Linked DNA regions of Homo sapiens. The protein of the gene in region 1 purifies or fractionates together with the protein of each later gene. This does not show direct contact. Each region holds a gene or a part of one and is shown on either strand. Other genes may lie near its edges.

Evidence for each region.
Region 2: the proteins of KAT5 (region 1) and EPC2 purify together in Homo sapiens (affinity purification with mass spectrometry; 5 studies listed by BioGRID and IntAct, with this or other methods). This does not show direct contact.

The regions. Positions count from the first base shown.
Region 1 is NC_000011.10:65,715,252-65,717,677, reverse strand, and holds part of KAT5 (histone acetyltransferase KAT5), read right to left. Parts: intron 1,012-2,426; coding exon 871-1,011; intron 790-870; coding exon 696-789; coding exon of another isoform or gene 692-695; intron 6-691; exon of another isoform or gene 1-5. UniProt on the Homo sapiens protein: Catalytic subunit of the NuA4 histone acetyltransferase complex, a multiprotein complex involved in transcriptional activation of select genes principally by acetylation of nucleosomal histones H2A and H4.
Region 2 is NC_000002.12:148,647,751-148,651,250, forward strand, and holds part of EPC2 (enhancer of polycomb homolog 2), read left to right. Parts: intron 1-3,500. UniProt on the Homo sapiens protein: May play a role in transcription or DNA repair.

The sequences.
Region 1 (2,426 bases):
CATAACCTTGATCAGGTAAAGCCTCTGTGTCTTCACCAGGTCAACAGCTAGAACTTCCTCCTTGTTTCTCAGGTCAGAGCTTGGTTATTCCAAGTGAGTGGTGAGACAGACAGAATGGGGGGTGATGGGGAGTAAGAGGCTGGGAAGAAGGGGCCTCAGGGTTGGGGAGGGCACTGAAGAGCCCATGTGTGATGAAGTTCAGAGTCCCTTCTGGCTTTAAGAGACTGACCTCACTGGACACAAGGAGCGAGGGACAACATGCTTATGTCTATCTGCTGACAGCATTTTGGATACCTGCCTGCAAGGCTCAGGGGACAACTGGGGACATTAGCCACTGGTCCTTGCCCCAGTACTCGTATCATGGCACACGTTACCAGATACATCAGCACCAGCGGCTCACTAACCTTCTGCCCATGGCTCCAGGCAGGAGCACGTAAGTCAGATTTGGGGAAAGCTGAGTGGCACTTAGAACCCTGGCCAAGGAGCAAACTGGGGGGCTGAGAACCTACCCCAGATAAGCAGGGCAGTCAGCCTGAACGGAGAGAACCCCGGGAGAGTGCCACTGTTATTTCTGGCTGGTTCCCCTAGAGGCTGGGCTGCACAGCCAGGGTTGAGAATCACAGTAGCCTGGCCCATCTGCCTGTGAGGCACCGATAGTGGGTCCACTACCCCCTGGCCGCAGCACACATACTCACTGAACTCGATCAGCAGCTTGCCGTAGCCCCGGCGCTGGTAGGGAGGCAGGGTTAGGATGCAGGCCACATTGTAGTCTTCCGTTGATTCTTTCTCCTGGAGAAGGGGGACAGGTGAGTGTCAGGGAAGGGATCTGGCTCAGGACAGGGCACAGGGACAGCTTGGGCAGGCACTGACCTTGGAGAAGTAGCCCACGATGTGGAAGCCCTTACAGTCATACTCTGTCATGACGTAGAAGAGGAAAGGGTCTGTGTCATAGTACAGTGTCTTATGGTCAAGGAAACACTTGGCCAAAAGACACAGGTTCTGGGAATAACTCTGCAAGAGAAAAGGCTTGTCACCACTCTGGGTATCCCGCCTTGAGCCTGGCCAGTGGTTCAGGGTCAACCAGGAGCTTCACTGTTCGTGCTATGCCCCAGGCTGCTAGGTGATGAGTGTTCTTCCCTGGCTGGGCCTGACCCACTCCACCAGCCCGCAGCTTAGGCAGGGCTGCTCCTCAGTGTTGAAAAGCCTGTGTGCCAGATGTGTGATGGTGTCTGAGTGCCTCCCTGCTCAGTCAGGCAAGTTTCCCGCCTTGCTCCGCACACCTCCATTCTAAGCCTGACCAGGAGAGACCACTGCCTTTTAATGTTTTTTAACAGCAGCCAACGAACTAATGTGTCCAAAGTGAGACTCTGACCACGGCTCCTCAAACTAATGTGTCCAAAGTGAGACTCTGACCACTGACTCCCTATCTAACAGTCTTGGGAGTCTAGCTGTTAAAAAACCTAACATTCTACATCCACAGTCACACCTCCTGGGAACTGATCTGCTACTCTACAACAGAGTTAAGGAATTCTGGAATTTAACAAAATAACTGCCTTAGGGTTTACCCCAGCAAAATTATGAATCCTGCTGCTTTACTTCTGCACACGATTTCTCCTGCATTTCAGACATTGTGGGTTTTTTTTTTTTTTTTTTGACACAGGGTCTCACTCCTGTCACCCAGGCTGGAGTGCAGTGGTGCAATCATGCAATCGTGGGTCACTGCAGCCTTGACTTCCCAGGCTCAGGTGATTCTCCCAACTCAGCCTCCCGAGTACCTGGGGGTTTCTCCATGTTGCCCAGGCTGGTCTCGAAATTCTGGGCTCAAGTGATTGGCCCACCTTGGCCTCCCAAAGTGCTGGGGTTACAGGTATGAGCCACTGTGCCCAGCCAGAAATTGCTTTTTATTTATTTATTTTTTTTACACGAAGTCTTGCTGTCTCCCAGGCTGGAATGCAGTGGTGCAATCTCGGCTCACTGCAAACTCTGCCTCCTGGGTTCACGCCATTCTCCTGCCTCAGCCTCCCGAGTAGCTGGGATTACAGGCACCCGCCACCACGCCCAGCTAATTTTTTGTACTTTTTAGTAGAGACAGGGTTTAACCGTGTTAGCCAGGATGGTCTCGATCTCCTGACCTTGTGATCCGCCCGCCTCAGCCTCCCAAAGTGCTGGGATTACAGGTGTGAGCCACCGTGCCCAGCCCAGGAATTGCTTTTTAACCGCCTGCTGCTGGGTACTGCCACTTGGATGCCCAGGTCCACATTAATAATTACAAAATGGTGGTTAACACAGCATCTTCATCACCTAAGCTCTGTCCCATGTACGAGCCTTCCCTCATCCTCCCTTTTCTGCCTCCCAACCAGAATGATCTCTGCCTTTCACAAAGACCACCTTTGTGCATCCATGCCTACTCTTCAGAACACCACTGC
Region 2 (3,500 bases), on another chromosome or scaffold:
GCCTCTCAAGTAGTTGGGACTACAGGCACGTGCCACTATGCCCAGCTAATTTTTGTATTTTTAGTAGAGACGAGGTTTCACCGTGTTGGCCAAAATGATTTCGATCTCTTGACTCTTGCTCCACCTGCCTCGGCCTCCCGAAGTGCTGGGATTGCAGGCGTGAGCCACCGTGCCCTGCCGCGCCTTGCAATTTTTTTATTAGCTCTTTTAGAAAGAATTATTTTCAAACTAGAGCATGAGTGCTAAACTTGGATACTTTTCAGTAGCCTACTTCAATTGCCCAATTTTAAGGAAGAAGAAATCCAAATTCTGATAAAACTAGAGTTGAAACCCAGAACCTCTGATTCTTTGTCCTGTCCTTTCTGCCTCTTTAATACATGCTAAAAGTGGAGATTCTTAAAATCAAAATTAAGCAAACCGTAACAGTTAAGATTTATAGTCTGAAATCTTTTGCTTCCCAGAGTGTCCAATTGGAGTATTAGTTTTTCTTTTTCTTTCTTTTTTAAATATGTATGTCAGAAGACTTGTGTTTTCATGAGTGACAGCAAATTCATTTCTCTGGTCTTACAGGACTTCTGTTATTAAACAGAATTATGTATTTATAAAAATGGTTCTGCCTTGATAAATATTTCTAAGCAGCAGTAAAATGTCATACATTTCACAAATGTTTTGTGTTTCACTTGAATTGCATTTTAAGTAACTTTCAATATCTAGATGTCCTTAACTCCTTATTTTTATAAGATTTTTTTCTTTTAAATCAGTAGGCTTGTAACAAACAAACCAACCTTGGCTTACGGATTCACAATTGTTGCTGGGTGTCTCTGAACTGTGCTGTCCTGCTTGGTTGGCAAAATCTTTTGAAGCCTTCATGGATGGCTTTTTCCCATTCCCCCTCTATCCCCACCCACCCTTAAAATTAAGGCCTGTCTCTTCTGTGTAGCTATTGGACTATCATTAGACTTCGTTTATATAAACAAAGTCATTATTCAAGTTCGAGTTACATTCTGACTGAGTTACATTCTGACAATGCCTGGATGAGGTGATTTAGGTGTTCTTGGGCATTGGTAACATTGTATCATTGATAATCATGTCATCCTGTGTAGCCTCTTCTTTTGGACATCCAAACATCTTTTACTTCTTTTCTTCCCTATCCTTATTATCATTGTCCTCTGCTAAGAGCTGCCAGTTGGCATCCTCCTTTAACTTGGTCTTTGTAATGCTCCTCACGGCACTTGGTCTAGGTCAAGTACTGTACACTTATGTTTATTTAGAATTTAGACCAGAAAGATCAGGCAGCCAGCGGTTCTGCCGCCTCCCCATGAGTGTTGTATAGTGGTAGTTGATGTTTTTACTAATACTTGCCATTTACTGAATACTTCATATATCCGAGATACTGTGTTAAGGGCTTTACATATATTATTTCATTTAATCCTTTTTTTAAATAAACTTTTTTTGAAGTATACTTTACATACAAAAAAAGTACCTATATACAGTGTGGAGTTTGATGAATTTTGACAAATGCATACAAACATGAAAACAAGATATAGAACATTTCCAACATTGGAGAAGTTCCCTTGTGCTCCTTTGCAACCAGTCCCTTTCCACTCCTAGTCCAAGCAATTGTTGATTTGTTTTGTTTTACTGTAGATTAGGTTGCCTTTTCTACAATTTCATATAAATGGAATCATACATACTTTTTTATGTCTAGCTTCCTTTGTTCCGTACGATGCATTTAAGATTCATCCTTGTTGTATGAGTCTGTTCCTTTATATTGCTGAGTAGTATTCCAGTGAATTTGGTATGCTATCTTTATGCATCTCTCTGATTTTTTAGTTGTTTCCAGTTTTTGATTATCATTTAATTCTGGTAACAGCCCTGTGAGGTATTACCATTTCTGTTTTATAGAGGAAAAGCTGAAAGGTCTTGCTGCTAGTGCAGGGCTGAAATTCAGACCCTTGACATTGGTGTCACAAAAGCATATACTCATAGTCACCATGCTGCATATTCAGGGTTCTTACAGAATCCAGAGTTATCTTCTGAACTGTGATTAAGTTCATTATAGCTTTTGTAAATAATATTTTACTTTTTATAACTTTGGAAACCTTAGAAGTTGCCAATTTGGTTAGACTGTTAAATTATTAAGAAGTGTAGTTTTTTCATTACTTAATTTGGTCTGACTTTTGCTCTTGGGTTTTCAGATTTTCTTTCTTTTTTCTTAGCAGTTTGTGAACTTTGCTTTCCCCTGTATTGGCACCATTATATTTATCCCACTGTTTATGTTATCTTAAGCATATAAGAAATTTGTGGGAAACTGTCCCATTTTATTGTTTAGATTTTTCTCCTGCTAGGATATAATGTCTCTAAGGGCAAAGATCTTTGCTTATTTTGCTCATTAATATATTCCAAGTGCCTGGAACTGTGCCTGGCACATAATACATGCTTGCAAAATGTTTGTTGAGTGTTGAATGGGCTTCTATTTCTTTTTCTGTTCCAAGAGCTATATTTGTGTCTTTTCTCCCCCTCCCCCAATATCTATCTATATATAAAATTTATTAGCAGCATTTGATAAAGTCTTCTTCCAGGAATTCTTTTTGGTTGCTTACTTTGGTACTATGTATATCTAAATATTATATCCTCTTTTCCTCTTGAGTCAGAGGCCTCTTTAAATATAGAATCTTTTCACACGCCGATATGGTTGTAATGATAAATCTTTATCTTGTTTTAAGTAACTCTCATAGGTGTGTGTAGATTTCTGTGAGATACTTTTTCATACCAGAATGTACCAGTCTACATGAATCATGTGATTCACCTTATTTTTAAAGAAGATCCATGACTAATTTGAATTGCCATATCTCCTCTCATATGTTGTCTAATTTTTGCCGTTATGTTAATATTTTAAGTGATATTTTGAATTGATACAGTAGGAATATAATCCTGATTGATACCTTTTCAGAATTACTATTGGCACTAATATATTTCATGTTTCATAATGGAGAGGGTATAAAATGCAGTTTTGTAAGTTGATACTGTAAAAACATGAAGCATTTCTTCTTCTAACAAAAGCAAATGACATGCCAGGTATTATCTAAATGCCAGTTGTTATCTAAATAAGATATTGGGAAACTAAAGTGTTCTGTATAGGAAAAGTATGTGTAAGGCCGTGTACTGAAATGTTAGGAATAAAAGAAGATGCAGACTTCAATTTCATAGAACTTAAATGAACCATTAAGTCCAAAAACATGTATCTGGAAAGTTAGCAAAAACTACAGGGTTAAGACAACCTGACAGACATCAAAAGAGCATTAGAGAAAGTTAAATGTTAGTGTAGTTGAGAGGCATGAGGTGATTCATTGCATGTCATAAAGAAGGCTTCTTGGAGAGAGGCGTAACAATTTGGGCTTTCAGGTTTGGTTGTATGGTGTATGTTGAAGCAAATATTTGAGCATAAGAATATCTAAAGGAAGTTCTGAGGATGCTGAGTAGACCAAAGGAAGGTTCTT